Linked DNA regions of Homo sapiens: region 2 is linked to region 1. A link means that fine-mapping ties the variant in region 1 to the expression of a gene that starts in the linked region. Tissue or cell type: fibroblasts. Region 1 holds a variant in brackets; the other region holds the start of a gene. All regions are shown on one strand. Distances are between the middles of the regions.

The links. PIP is the estimated chance that this variant, and not a neighbour inherited with it, causes the effect.
Region 2: it holds the start of HYCC1, and the variant in region 1 is fine-mapped to the expression of HYCC1 in fibroblasts (GTEx, PIP 0.95).

The regions. Positions count from the first base shown.
Region 1 is chr7:22,878,455-22,886,561 of GRCh38, forward strand. All of the region lies in intron 3 of LOC107986776 (a long non-coding RNA gene), which reads right to left. It also overlaps the pseudogene RPL12P10. Among named protein-coding and RNA genes, the nearest start is that of SNORD93, 26 kb to the left of the region's middle. The variant A/G (reference allele first, on the strand shown) is at 3,234.
Region 2 is chr7:23,010,760-23,018,866 of GRCh38, forward strand. It overlaps HYCC1 (hyccin PI4KA lipid kinase complex subunit 1), which reads right to left and starts at 3,371. Exons shown (of 11, transcript NM_032581.4): 1 at 3,166-3,371. RefSeq lists enhancers at 2,073-2,754, 3,172-3,361, 3,522-3,701 and a silencer at 2,712-2,981.

The DNA.
Region 1 (8,107 bases):
CTCACACCTGTAGTCCCAGCACTTTCGGAGGCTGAGGCAGGTGGATCATGAGGTCAGGAGATCGAGGCCATCCTGGCTAATATGGTGAAACCCCATCTCTACTAAAAATATAAAAAATTAGCCAGGCGTGGAGGCGTGCACCTGTAGTCCCAGCTACTCTGGAGGCTGAGGCAGGAGAATCGCTTGAACTTGGGAGGCAGAGGTTCCAGTGAGCCAAGATAGCGCCACTGCACTCCAGCCTGCGTGACAGAGTGAGACTCCATCTCAAATAAATAAATAAATAAATAAATAAATTAGAGACGGGGGTTTCACCATGTTGGCCAGGCTGGTCTTGAACTCCTGACCTCAAGTGATCAGCCCACCTTGGCCTCCCAAAATGCTGGGATTACAGGAATGAGCCACTACACCCAGCCACCTTCCTCTATTTGTTCTATATTTGATAATTCAAACATATTTAAACAAAAATACACATTTTTGCATCTAATATTTTGAGACATCCTAATGTCCTTAATATTGCAGTTCTCTTAACCATCCAAAGATAAAAGATTAATTTCATTTTGATTCCTCTCTTACCCACATTCATAAGGCACAACTTATAAAAATAAAAAATCTTGGACTCATGAGGTAAATCAAAGTTGCTCCTAAAACACATGTATTTAAACCACGAGCATTATTAAACAATAAATATATATACATTATTTATTTGGAGCAAATTTTGCCAGCTAATCAGAAAGAGTAAAATGCTGTTTAGCATGAATTTGCTTTTAGAGAGTACACCAGTGCTGGATAAAAATACAGGCACCAAGTTAGGGGATTCTCAGGGATTTTGTTTTCTTTTGACAAAGTTGTCTTCATTCATTTGTCACTGAGGGACCGCTAGGGAAATATCCACCTGTATCCCTTTTCTTAAGTCTAGAAATAGAGAAATAAGCAAGGCATTTCCATTGATATATGTGCCATAAAGGAAGTAGCCCAGAATGCAATGAAAGTATGTAAAAATGGCAGGAAGTTGCCCCACGGCAAAATCTGAGGGCCAAGAAGGAACTGAACTAGCAAGTGAGGATTAGGGGTAGAGACAGCTCTCCAGGTTGGGAGAACAGTGGGTACAGAGGCCTATTGAAAAGAGAAAGGATAACTGCAGACAAAATCCAGAGGTTGGGGTGGAAGGTGCGAAAGTCGGAGAGGAATAAGAAAGGGAAGGGATGAATCAAGTCTGGAGAGAGACTCCCCTTTACCTGGGAGGAGCAGGAAGGAGCGGTGGATCACCAAAGCTGCTGTGCCCTGATATGGCTTGGCTGTGTCCCCATCCAAATCTCAAATTGTATCTCCCAGAATTTCCACGTGTTGTGGGAAGGACCCAGGGGGAGGTAATTGAATCACGGGGGCCAGTCTTTCCTGCGCTATGCTTGTGGTAGTGAATAAGTCTCACAAGATCTCATGGGTTTATTAGGGGTTTCTGCGTTTGCTTCTTCCTCATTTTCTCTTGCCGCCACCATGTAAGATGAGCCTTTCACCTCCCACCATGACTCTGAGGCCTCCCTAGCCATGTGGAACTGTAAGTCCAATTAAACCTCTTTTTCTTCCCAGTCTCAGGTATGTCTTTATCAGCAGTGTGAAAATGGACTAATACAGCCCTCTGTGGATTCCCAGCTGCAGGCGGCCTCCTCTCCAGCCTTTCAACACACTCACCCTGCACCTTCCCCACAGAGCTGGGGGCCAGGGCCTGTCTCAGCTACTTGCCAGGACTCCTTTCCTGCTTCCTCTTGCCCATCCTGACCATCACTCCTTATTTTCACCTTTCTGATGCCCATCAGAAATGGGGGTCATAAATGGGGGTCAGAAATGCGGTTCTGATTTAGATCTTTAGTGCCACAGGAAACACAGTTATCAGTGCAGAGTGAGTGTGGGAAAGTTTTCAGGAGAGAAGAGAGGTCATTTAGGAGAGTGGATCAGACCCCCATCTGGCCAGGCAGTGGCATCCCAGTCTTCCTGGTTATGCCCTGCAATCTCATGTGTGTCTTCCTGGTTTTAGAGAGCCCTGCTGAAAGCCCTCTTTATGGCACCCACTGCCTTCTACCCTACCTCATCGCCACATCCCCTATGGAGGCTACCACTGATTCAGATCCATCATTGCAACCCTCAGCAGAATAGCCCTGCTATAGTGGCAGGGATTCCATATCTACCCTTTCCTTCCTTCCTCCCCTCCTCCCTTCCTTTCTTTTCTTTCCCTTCTTTTTTCCTTCCTTCCCTCTTCCTTCCTCCCATCCTTCCTTCTCACCTGCCCTCTTGTATGTATTCATGTATTTAGGTATTTTGCCAGGCATTGGGGATAAAGTGGTAAGAAAGTTGGAGAGGGTTCTTACACTTACAGCCCAGGGATAACAGCAAATAGACCATGAATTACAACCCAGTGTGATAAGTTTCAGCTTAGACAGGGTGAGGTGCCACCCCATCACCCCAGAAGCTAGTCATGGAGGAACCATGGCAGGTCACTCAAAAGGCCCTCTGGAACCTAAAGGTTGGCATATGGCACTGAGGAAGGACATTGACTCTGGACATGTCAACCCCTGACACAGGAGCACTACCCAGCCACCCACCCCAACACTGAAACAGTGCCTGGGGTCATTCACACCCGCAGAGGTCACCAACCCTGTGGCCTCTCCCCAGGTGCACCCTCTGTGCTTCAGCACTTCAGCCATGCCTGAGGCATCAGGGTTTTGCTGTCACTCCACACCCCAGCACTGGACAAATCCTCCAGTGACAGAAACTGCATTAAAGTGCTGGAACCACAGTCTGCTCAAGCCAACCCCACTGGCCCATCGGCTGGTGGAAAGAGCTTCTTGGGAGCTAGCCTGCCACAGCAGGAATTCTCTGGAATGTGTCAGGATCTTCCATCTGGCCCAGTCTGGGTAGAGGGTCTGGCCAGGAGAAGATCACTCCTCACTGGCTAGTCTCCCTTCAAAGTCTCAGCACCAGGTTGGTCCTTGGGCTGGGCTGCCATTGGACTGCATTTCTCGTGTCCACTGACATTCCCACTTCCCTAAATGACCTCTCTTCTCTCCTGAAAATTCTCCCACACTCACTCTGCACTGATGACTGTGTTTCCTGTGTCACTAAAGATCTAAAAAGCATGGGAGAGGACTTCCTTGAGCTCTCATCCCCACACCTGCCCCCCTGCCTGCACCCAGGCCCTGGGCTCTGCCACTCCTCCTGTCTCCAGGCTCCTGGCACAG[A/G]CCAATTCCCCCCCACATCCCTCTTCCCTCCAGTCTTTCTTCCCCCCTGCTCATGTGTCCTCAAACGTTCTCTTTACTAGGTCTTACAAACAAGCTGTTATTCCAAGAATCTCTTCAAAAAACAGCAACAAGGCTTTCAGCTTTCAGCTGGGAGGAGGCCAAGGTGCAACTTTCTTGGGTCGTCCTGAATCTAGCCACCTCTGCCATGCTGCCGAAGTTCTACCCCAATGAGATCAAAGTCACATACCTAAGGTGTACTGGGGATGAAGTGGGTGCCACGTCTGTGTTGGCCCCCAAGATCAGCCCCCTAGGTCTGTCTTCAGAAAAGGTTGGTGATGACATTGCTAAAGCAACTGGTGACTGAAAGGATCTGAGGATTACAGTGAAACTGATCATTTAGAACAGAGAGGCCCAGATTGAGGTGGTGACTTCTGCCTCTGCCCTGATCATCAAAGCCCTCAAGGAACCGCCAAGAGACAGAAAGAAACAGAAAAACATTAAACACAGTGGAAATATCACTTTTGATGAGATTGTCAATGTTGCTCAACACATGTGGCACCGATCTTTAGCCAGAGAACTCTCTGGAATCATTAAAGAGATCCTGGGGACTCCCCAGTCTGTGGGCTGCAATGTTGATGGCTGCCACCCTCATGATATCATAGATGACATCAACGGTGGTGCTGTGGAATGCCCAGCTAATTAAGAAGCACAAAGGAAAATATTTCAATAAAGGATCATTTGAAAAACAAACAAAAAAAAAAAAACACAAAAAAACAAAAACAGCAACAATAACTTTCTCTTGGCCTCCCTGTTCTTCTCTTGGCTACTACCCCAGCTCTCTACTCACCTTTATATCTTGAAAGGATCATTTGTTCTTGCTTCAATTCTCCCTCAACCCACTGTGAACAACTTTCATCCCCATCTCTCAACATATCTACTCCTCACAAGGTCATCAATTACCCCCCACAGGGTGCAATCCAGCTGTCAGTTCTGAGTGCTCATCTCTGCATGTGACACCTTGCTCCCTTCCTCCTTTGTGAACCCTGCCTCACTAAGCTTCATGCACCCCCTTCTCCTGGCTTTTCTCTTCCAACACTGGCTGCTCCTTCTATTGCCTCCTTTACCAACCTCCTATCTTTAGCGTCCTCAAGCATCTGGTCTTGGACCCCCTCCCCTCCACTCTCCTCCCCTGCCCTCTCCTCCTCTACCCTTCCCTTCCCTTCTCTTTCCTTTCTTGACAGGGTCTCACTCTGGTTGCCGAGACTGAATTACAGTGGTGTGATCTCGGCTCACTGCAGCCTTGAGCTCCCGGGCTCAGATGATTCTCCCACCTCAACCTCCTGAGTAGCTGGGATTACAGGCATGCACTATCATGTCTGGCTATTTCTTAATTTTTATTTTTAGTAGAGACAGGGTTTCACCATGTTGCCCAGGTTGGTCTCAAGCTCCTGGACTAAAGCAATACACTTGCCTTGGCCTCCCGAAGGGCTGGGATTACAGGAGTGAGCCTGGCCACCTCTTCTATTTTCTATTTAAACCCACTCCTTTAAGGATATCACCAGCCTCATGATTTAAAATACCACAAGGCCGACAAGTCCCAAATTTCTAAGTCCAGCAACCACCACTTGTCCAACATCCATGGGAGCCTGAGTAGGCGTATCACATTTAACATGTCCAAAACGGAACTCCTGATCTTATTCCATTCAAACTCGTTCCACCCCCGGCTTCCCCATCTTAGTGAGTGAAAACTCCATTCTTCCTGTTGCTCAGACCAGAAAACCTTCATCTGTTCTCTCTTTTAAACCCTACACCCCAGTCAGGCATCATGTTGCCTGAGCCTTCAAAAGAATATCCTGAATCTGATTACTTTTCACCACCACCACTGCTACCAGCCTAAACACCCCCACCTCTTTCCAGGGTTATTGCAATATCCCCTCACTTATCCCCTATCTGTGCCTTGGCCCACTTTCAATCTATCCTCATCATAGCAGCGAGAGGGGTTCTATTAAAAATCTAAGTCAGATCATGAAACTCCTCTGCTCAAAACCTCTAATGGTTCTCATCTCACGTAGGGTAAAATACAAAGTCCTTACAAAGGTCCACAAGGGCCTCAGGATCTGTTCCCTCCATTCACTTCTCTGACCTCCTCTACTACCCTACCCCATCGACTATGCTCCAGCCACATGGACTTCACTCCCATCTCCCGAACCTTTGCACTTGCCATTCCCTCTGTCTGGAATACTCTTCCTCTAGGCAGGCTCAGGAGTCAGGCCATCAGCCCATCAACCCCATCAACTCCATTGGGTCTTTATTTAAAAGTTATCTTTGCAGTAGGACCTTCCCTACCCACCCCACCTAAATATTGCACCCTTTATAAAAGCACTGACCAACAGAACTTTGTGCTTGATGAAACTTTATCTTCACTGTCCAATAGGATGGCCACTATGAGGCTTTTGAGCACTGGAAATGTGGCTTGTATGACATGGAAATGGAATTTTTAACTTTAACTAATTTAAATATCATCAGCCACACAAGGCTAGTGGCCACTATGTTGTAAGCACAGCATCTTTACACTCCTTTATCTCTTTTTGCTGCATTATTTTTTTGCTTACTATTTGCCACTAACATACTACATAATTTACTTATAATTTATTCATACATCTTGTTTATAATTTGTTTTCCTCACTAGAATGTAAGTGGAAAAAACAAATTATGACTACACGGAGAATGAGGGGCAGGAATCTTTGTCTGTTTTGTTCACTACTATATTTCTGGTACCTAGAACAGTTTCTGGCACATAGTATATACTAACAAAATCTTTGTTAAATGAAGGAACACGCAGTAGGAGACTCTACAAGCTCCACCCAGGCATTGCTCTGCTCTCTGTCCATGTCTACTCTCTGCTAATTTGCCAGACGTTGATCTAACTTTCATCTCCTGACCTGGATGTTCATAGGTTCCTCTGGCCCTTCTCCTTCTGAATGGTTTCTTCCTTCAGAAACCAGTGTCTAGTTTCCCAGTGGTGTACCCACTACCTTCACTTCAACCCACCAGTCTATAGCCTCTTGGTCCTCTCTGCCAGCCTTGGCTCTGTTGGGCTTCTCTTTAACTAGGCTTACCTGAGACAACAAATGGCCAAGAGCCATGGGGTAGGCCAAGAGTGCTGTCAGCCTATGCTTCTCTTCTTTGCTAAGACTCCAGAAAACAACACAGCACTTCACGGCATCTCTCGGCAGTCAACCAGAGTTAGAAGCTGGACCTCAGTCATCCACACCACATGCTAAATCATCACCAAATGGCCTCATGATGAAGGACTTCACACACAGAAACCTTCTGGGCATAGGTCACGCCTTCTATGCCTTTCCAGGACACATGACTGTGGCCCCCAGTGATGGTTAGGTGGCTATTACTGAGCTAAGACTCTACAATGAGTGTCTTGCTTCCTTTCTAAAAGAAACCCTACCCTTGGGCCAAGGGATAGGGAAGGGAACAGAAGGGAATTCTAGTTATGGCTGTTCTTTGTTTTAACCAATAAATGGATTTCCATTTTAAGAGCCCAGATGTCAAGAGTATCTTATTATAGTGGCCTCACACAGGCTGGGAATGAAGTAGAAATTAGAATGGTTGTTGAAAACTTTCCGTTTTCTTCTTCTTTATTAAGTCTGATGACTCAGACTTGATCTAGGGCTTTTTGTAACAGCCAGGCACATCCTCTTACATAAATGAGAGAAGATGTAACCACCTATTATAATGCCTTGCATATAAGGGACACTCAACAAACGGTGGCTAATAATATGATGAGTAGAAATAAATATTCTGTTCTGCCTCACAATGTCTATCACAATGAAAACAATTGTGGGAAGTAAACTGTATATTGAAATGTATTACCAAAATCGAAAGTTAAGCAAAAATAGTTTCCATAGATAGCTAAAAACTTTCTGTTTTTCCTGAGCTAAAGAAGAACAAGAAACTAAAACTCCTTTCAGGCACCATTTATCTTTCTGTTAAACATCAATCTGATGTCATGTGGCAAGAGTTTTAGTTTCATTTAAAAATCATTTCTGATATCTTGTGGAACAGAACAATTTCCCTTCCAGAGAAAAAGGGTATCTATTTAGCCAATGACAAACAGCTTCCATTTTCTCCTTTTTTTTAACTTTCTTTTTTTTTTTTTTTTTTTTGTTAACACCACTTTTGTTCAGGGTGACAGTACACCTGTAGCCCAAGGGGATGAATCACAGTAGATATAAATTCCACGTGGTGATTTCCTTCCCTAGACTACCCTGTAGCTAGGATTGGCATAGGACCATTCTGGCCAGTGAGGTATAAGTAGAAGTCTCCTGGGGGCTTCAGGGAAAGAATCTGCTTTCTGATAAATGATGCAAGTGCAAGAGGAGAGTTTGCTTTTGCTCTTCCCCACCCACATCCTGTCTGGGAGTGTGACAGTGCCTACAGCTGCAGCAGCTGTCTTGCAATCATGAATTGACAGTGTCAGAAGCCAATCTGCTGAAAATGACAAGGCAGATGGATAGATCAACATGGGGTCTCAATGGCATCACTGAGTGGCTGCACCAACACTAAATGGACAACAGCTGCAATTCTTGTTTAGCCAAGGTTGAAGGTTCTTAAAATTGAAACTCTTGTCAGTTGAGTTTTATTTGCAGCCAGAAGCAATTCCAACTGATTCACAGACCTTTAATTACTAGTTCAATGACTACCCATACACCCAGTATCTAAATTTAACTACTTCTAATATTTACCACATTTGCTTTTTTCTCTAAGTTTTCAATATATGTGGAAGATAAATTGTAGACATAACGCTTAGCCCTTCAGCAAGTATCTCCTAAAAAGAAGAACATTTTCCTTCATAACCA
Region 2 (8,107 bases), 130 kb after region 1:
TTTAAAGTTCCTGAGATTATTGTAAATTATTATTACATTATTGTAAATGCACAGCCAAGATTGAGAACCACTACTCAATGAAAGCTATAGCTATCATTTTCTCCCTTCTTTATTTCAGTTCTCTTGAAAAGTCTCACTTAAGCATGTCTACTTTATCACACCCATTCTTTCTCAATCTTCTGAAGCCTGGTTTCTGAACCACCACTCAGTTAAAACTGTTCTTGTTAAAGTTACCTATGGACTCCTGACAAATTCAGTGGTCACTGGGGCCCTCTCCTAACTTGACACCTCCTTACAGCATTCAAAATTGTTAACCTGTTCCTCCTCCACTGGAAAATCTCCCCGCCCTTGGCATCTTTCCTGATGGTCCTCCTACCTTGCTAGCTACTATTCCTCTAACTTTCAGACAATTCTTCTTCCTACTTCTGCTATTTATGAGAGTCTGTTCTCTGGCTGCCACTTTCACCAGGCTAAAGGCTTTCCCTGAGTCATTTCATCACAACTAAATCAATATAGCTTCAATTCAACCCCCAATCATCTCTCTAATCCTGATTTTCACATCCACAGATACAAACATCTATCTATATCTTCGCCTGAAGTTCCACTGCTTCCTCAAATTCAAAATAGCCAAAACAGAATTTATCATCTTCCTTCCATTTTTGTGTTCCTCATTTCCATCAACAGAACCCCAAGTCAAACCTTCACAGTCCTGAGTCCTCCTTTCTTCTCATAGGTGATTAGGACTTGTTAGTTTTTCCCTCACTCTGCCACAGTAAAGGTCTAAAATACAAATCCAATAAATGGCTTCTCATCTATCACGTTCAATCCAATCCCTTTAGCTAAGGATACCATTCCCTGATCTGGCCCTCTACCACCCTCACTATCTTCATCTGGCACCATTTCCTACTAACCCCTGCATTCAAGCCATATCAATGTCAATGTTATTGACTTTGTCAACTGCCAATGTCAATTGACACTGACTCGTCATTGTCAATGACTTATCTAAATTGCCACAGTTTCTCAGGCCTCCTTGCCTTCTCAATTACTATATCCTCCTCTTGGGAAGTTACTTACCTCCTGCACTTGGCAAAATCATATCATCCTTCACAACTTGGCTGTGTGCTCCCAACTCCACCTACACTCAAGGCAAGTTAACTATCTCCTACTCTAAACTCTCCTACTACACTAGGCATATCTCTATTCCCACTGACTACATAGTATTATAATTGTTAATTTACTGTAATGTTACTAACATCTTGTATGTTAGATAGTAAATTCCTTGAAGACAAGAGCTATGACATTCATTTCTGTATCCCTAGTACCTACTCAGCCTGGAAGAGTGAAAAAATAAATTTATGTTTGATATAATTTCAATCATTTATAAAATATAAACGATACCCCAAAATAGGTCTTGAATACTAAGATTTCTTAAAATTTCTTAAGATCCATTATAAAATAAATATTAGGCAACAGGATGCTGAATAAAACAGTACATATATTTAAACTCACCGTCAAAGACACCAGTCTAAAAAATACAACCCAGAGCAAATTTCATAAAACAGAAATACAACAATGAAAGGAAGCAGAGCAAGGATAAACGCTGACCCAGCTAATGCCTTATCGGGTGTCTGTATCCAGGTACTGCTAATGCCGATGACTAAGAAGGTTTCTAATCCTTCTAATCCCTCATGGTAATTTCAATAAATCGAATAAGGATAAACGAGCCAAATCCAGAATTTGTTTCCTAAATATGTGATGCTTTTCCCCCTTGCCACTTGGTTTGATTGAACTGATTATTTGAATAGCTGACTTTGAAGCCACTATTGGCCAAGCAGATCTTAAATGTTTTTCCTTCCTTGTCTTTGCCTGCACTTCAAAAATATGGTGGTTTAGACTACTATTCATCCTGTAAACCTTAAAATGTATTCACCTAAAGAAAAAAAAATACTTGGAAATGTCGGGGGAGGTGGGGTGCCTGTGGATGTTAGCAGTAGAATGTTTTCATGGAAAACAAGCCTCCCAGTCTTTCTGACTTTATGGCAATAAGATTTGAAAGCTGAAAACCTCAAACTGTAAAGTGTTACATGAACCAAAGAGGTGGCCCACCTGCTCCAAAAACTACTGTGTGATCCAAGGATAAATAATTTGCAAAAGGTCAGCTTGGCCCTACTGCCTGTAGGGCAGTCTCTGAGATAAGAAGTAGCTGCCGGTGGAACAAATTCCCCCTACCTGAAGAGCGCCGCGGCTGCCAGGCTTGTGATAGTGTATTTCTCAGAGAGCAGATTCTGTGCAGTACTAAACCACTTAGGCAAAATTAAAATCTTTCAGGAATGTCTAAACTCACAAAGCACACATGTGCAAGCTGACGGGCAGACAGCAAATTTCGGGGAAGCGTACAAACTTGGGGGTGTTTTAATGCAACCATTTTCAGCCAAACCCCCGAGGATTCCCGAGTATGTTAAAATGAGCCTCAGGAGAGGAATAACTCATAGAAAGAAGGGGCAAGGGCTCAAGAAGAGATCTTCAGCGAAATAACCAAGGAAGGAAGCGTGGCTGCTGTCTGAACCTCTCCGCCCTGCAGGGGACCAAAGACCGACTCGGGCCAACGCTGCTCTCCAGGGGGCGAGGGCGGGGGGTCGACAGTGACCATTGTGGCCACCAGACCGGACGGACAGTGGCGGCCTCGCCGAAGTAGAGGGCGCGAGTGGGAGAGGAGGCAGAGGCCAGAGCATCCGCCGCGGCAGGGAGGGGACGGGGGGCTCCCGCCCCAGGCCCACCCGGCAGAGGGGCGGCCGGTGGGGCCGAGGCGGCGGCACCCGGGTCACAGCAGGAGGCTGGACTGCTCCTCGCCGGGAAGGAAAGACCCGAGTCGCGCGCACAAAGCTGCCGCCCTCCAGGCAGCGGGCAGGCTGCGCCCAACTTCGGGGCGAGCAGCGCCGGCCGCAGCCCACCCGCCCGCCAGCCGCCCCCAGCGCCCCGCGCCGCCTCGCACCCACCCATGGCGCCTCGCGCGGGAGCCGTTACCCCCAGTGGAGCCGCGGCCCCAGGGACAAAGTCCCGGTCCTGTCCTCGCCGCCGCCTCGCCCCGGCTCCTCCCTGACAAAAAAAAGTTATCCGTTGCCGGACGCCCTGGGGGCCCGGCGTGGGTCTCTCGGCTGGACTCACCAGGGCGGCTGCCGGAGCTCCACCTGCAGGACCTCGACTCGTGAGGCTCTCAGCGACAGCGACGGAGGCTGCTCTGCTTCCTCCCGAGTAGCAGCACCACCTGCTCCCCTTCTTCCTAGCAGAACGGGTCCCGGTGAGCCATCTTCCCCCTCCTCTCACTGACTGACAACCCAGCCGGGAGAGCCACCACTGCCGCCAGCCTCTCTGACAGGCACGACCAGGGACCCGTCCTCAAGCAGCCAACCACCACCGCCCCACGCCAGTTCAGCCTATCGCCGTCCTCCGGGGCGGGATCAGAACAACTTCTCCACCAATGAGAATCTTCTTCTGCTGGGCCTGGGGCGGAGCCATGAGGCGCCTTGAGTGGGCGTGGTCTGAGCAATGGGCGTGATCCGGGCGTCCGAGGGAAGTTGATTGACTGTAAGGTTTGCGGTGGCCGCTAGGCGATGACAATCAGCGAAGGTCTCTTAGATTCTGAGCCGTTAGGGCTTATGGCCTTCTCAGAAAAAAATAAACCTTACCGGATGATGTGAAGGGTATCAATTTGTTTCTCTTTTGTGAGAAAAGAGAAACAAATTGATAATTTACTAGTCAGTAGGATTTACTTCCCTGTAATTAAATTCACAAGAATTTATCAAAATCTTATCAAATCCCGGGAGGAAAAAAAAATTACGTTTTTGCAAAATGGAAATACAAACTTCCCCCTCACTACATCATTGCTTTTGGGCTTAGCCTGGAAAAAGTCAAATACGATGCCTCAGTTTTCTTTCCATGGGGGTTGTTTTTATTTTTTCCATCATTCCTCCCTACTTTTTCTCTGAACATATACTAAATGTTTTGTATAATAACTGGAACCCGAGAACACCTGAACCTGCGCCTGCAGACAGTACTGCTGTTTTTGACCTTGTAAACCTCTCCTACCACATCCTTCTCAAGACTGGTCAGGATTAATTAGAAGAAAAACTGACCTCCACCCTAGAAGACAGGAAGTTCATTCTAGCTTTACACTAGAAATGGGCAGGATTTCTCCAGAAACACTAAGTGAACTTTTCAAACATGCTGAACTCATAAATAACAAGCACATAAATAAGAAGATATATTACTTGATATCAAAAGGGTATCAAGCAAACAATTTCAGGTAATTATTAGGGCAGATTGCTAAAACAGATAGGATCCCCCTCCAAAGGGAGGATCAGATTAATGAGTAAATAATAACAAACTACAGTGATAAGGACAATAGAGATTGGTTCAATGAGCAATGGAAACAGAGGACAAGAAATGACTGTTTAGGAAAGTCAGCGAACTCCACAAGGAAGGTAATGTTTGAGTTGGATCTTAAAAGGTAAATGGGAGTTTGCCAGAGAAGAAAGTCAAAGGGTATTTCAGAAAGGGAGAACACCATGTTCAAAGGCATGGAGCTGTGAAAGGGCACAGAGCCATTGTGGAATGTTGAGAAGGTAGATGGGGTTAAATGATGAGGAACGGCCAAAAATTGGGCTGGAGCAAAAGGTTGAGGTGAGATTGTAAAAGACCTCACAAGCTACACTAAGATATTCAGACAAGCACTGTCCAGCAGAGCTTTCTGCACTGGTGAAAATGTTCTATATTTGTGTTGTCCAAAATAGTAGCCATTAGCCACATGTGGCTATCAAATACTTGAAATGTGGTGTGACTGAAGAGCTCAATGTATTTATTTATTTATTTATTTATTTTTGAGACAAGGTCTCACTCTGTCACCCAAACTGGGGTAGAGTGCTTAAGTGATCCTCCCACCTCAGCCTCCCAAAGTGCTGGGATTACAGACATGAACTACCATACACGGCTGAAACTCAATTTTTAATTTTTTTTTTTTTTGGCAGAGTCTCCCTCTGTCACCCAGGCTGGAGTACAGTGGTGGGATCTTACCTCACTGCACTTCCACTTCCCAGGTTCAAGCAATTCTCCTGCCTCAGCCTCCTGAGTAGCTGGGGTTACATGAACTCACCACCACACCCAGCTAATTTTTGTATTTTTTGTAGAGACAGGGGTTCACCATGTTGGCCAGGCTGGTCTCGAACTCCTGACCTCAGGTGCTCCACCCACCTCAGCCTCCCAAAGTGCTGGGATTACAGGTGTGAACCACCATGTCTGGCATTAATTTTTAATTTTAACTTTAACAACTCCCATATTGGATAGCTCAGGTTTAGATTTTCTTCTTAAGGCAATGAGGGACAGACAACAGCTTTTAATCATGTGGACAATGCAATCAGGTTTCTTTTAAATGGTGAGAATCCAAAGAAAAAAAAACAGGGTAGAGAGGAAATTCTTGACAGATCAGACTGACTTAATTTAGGTCCCCTTGGCCAGAGCCTGTTCAGGACAAGTGTTTACTCAAAGAAATAGGGAGAGGAAGATCCAGGCAGCATGTTATTCATCTTAGAGAACACAAGCAGTCAAAACCTGAGACGTTGAATTCTGCCGTCAAGTCCCATTGAGTAGGAGAGTGAGGGACCAAGGAAGGAAAGAAACCGAGTCAGCCAGATCATAAGATAGAGAGAAACAAGAGTGGGCAAAAGAGTGCACACCTACGCGCATGCACACACACACACACACACACACACACACCATCAGTTTTACTGGCCATTGGCCATGTGTGCCAGTAATGTGTTGACCTGATTTGAAGAGCCAAAGTTTCTGGTGGCAGGAAGCCCAGCCAAGACCAGGACAAGATTCCAGGAGAGAATCTCGAACCAAACCTGTGGAAGTCAGGATGGAAGGGACAGGTAAATATTATTGACTTCCTGTACTGTACAAGGCACGTGGCTTGTCAAGGATACAGATGAATGCTAGAAGCTTGCTTATAGTATAGTTAGCTGCATAACAAACAGATGAAAGGTTAAGCAAAGATTAAAGTAATTATTTAATGCAGCAGTGGAGAGATTACATAAGGCAGTACATAATCGATTCATTGTTCAAATGATTTTCTAGGCATTAGCCGCTGTGTTTTCAGAGGAGGATGCAAGCACTGCAGTCAAGGGCAGTCAGGGAAGGCTTCATGAAAAAGGCAAAATGGGCTGGGTCTAGAAAACTGGGGAGGAATTTGAACCAGATAAAATGGTGAGAAAGTAACTCCCAGAATGCCTGGAGAAATAACACAAGAGGGGAAGCACAAGCAATGTTCAGAGGGCATGGGAGGCAACTTGAGTCAGCCAAGCCTGGCAAGCTAGGTTGCAGATAGATAATAGAACACCTTGAAGGCAAGCTCAGTTGTTCAGATTTTCTCCTTTTGCCTTGTGGCTTCCTGTCTGCTCATTAGAATCACTTAGGATGCCTTTCAAAATTATCAGTACTCAAACCGCACCCCACAGTAAATAAATAAATAAATTGGTGTGTGAGGCTAGTCATTGGGTTTTTAAAAAAGCTTCCCAAGTGGTTCTAATATACACCCAAGGTTGACAAAAGGGAAATAATATAACATGTTACTAGTGCCAAATCAGTGCCGTGCATAGGATAGATTGAGTGGAGAGAAACTGAAGTTTGGCTATGTATATTTATATATAATTTGTTTCCTTCCTGCAAGAAGACAGGAAGCAGTTTACTGCCTGACTTCACTTCCCATTTTGCAGTGGTAAGGTAGTATAGAAGGCAATTTAAGTTGTCTTCCCTCTAAGTCAGAGTAAAACGAAAGCACAAATTTATGTTTCCAGTCTACTCTCCTTTCCATCACAATTTGTGCATATAAAAATAATTTCCAACAATAACAGTCTGCAGTTAAGTTTTACACATAGCCGTTTATATTTTAATCGCAAAGCACCAGAAAAAATGCCTAAGAGAACATTCTGTTTCAAAAGGAAAATGCTTTTAACCTACTTTATAAAAGTCAACATATTCCAGATCTTTCCTGCTCATCTTTGCTAGTCTCTGATATCCACACGCATAATTCTAAAGTAACTATTAAAATGCATTTATCTTCTTGCAAATAACTGTATAAAAGTGCCAGTTGAACATTATAAACATAAACATTTTCCCTATGACATTAAATTTCAGGAATTTTAAGAAAAATTTAGTTCAAATATCTTTCTCTTTTTTTCTTTTTCTTTTCCTTTCTTTGTTTCGTTTTGTTTTTGAGACAGAGTCTGATTCTGTCACCCAGGCTGGAGTGCAGTGGCACCATCTTAGCTCACTGCAACCTCCACCTCCTGGGTTCAAGCGATTCTCGTACCTTAGCCTCCTGACTTGCTGGGGCTACAGGTGTGTGCCACCGTGCCTGGTTAATTTTTGTATTTTTTTGGTAGAAACATGGTTTCACCATGTTGGCCAGGCTGGTCTCGAACTCTTGGCCTCAAGTGATCTGCCCACTTTGGCCTCCCACAGTGCTATGATTATAGGTATGAGCCACCATGCCCGGCCTAGTTCAAATATTATATATTTCTATTAAAGTCAATTGGACAACAACTGTTGTTAAAATGGTTAAAATAGATAACATGATTATTTTAAATTAAAAAGAATTTTGTTTAAAAAAACATGAAAAATATGTCAAAATGTTGCTTTTGTGGTATGTTAAACATTCTTTAAGAAAAAAGAAAATCAAAGAAATGAAGTCAAAACAAAAAGAGTGTGCCTGAGAGGTCATTCAAGGGCTTGCTATATCAGATTCCCTTTTTAAGGGAACTACCCCAGCCAGTGGACCCAGCTGAGGCAGCAACCTGAGCCATGATCTATACCATACAACCCCCTTCATGAACTGTATAACCCAAGGGCAGCCAACCTCAAGAGGTGACCTGACATGAACACCCACTCTCTTTCAAGAATTTGAACTGGAAATAGGAAGAGAAAATCACGTGGTGGAAGCAGAAGCTAAAAAATCAGTCAGTAGAAAGAAGCCCTGAGAAGCTATAAAAAGGGCACGTTTTCAGTAAACTGAAGCCATTAGGTAGCGTCAAGACGTATAAAGTGGATGGTG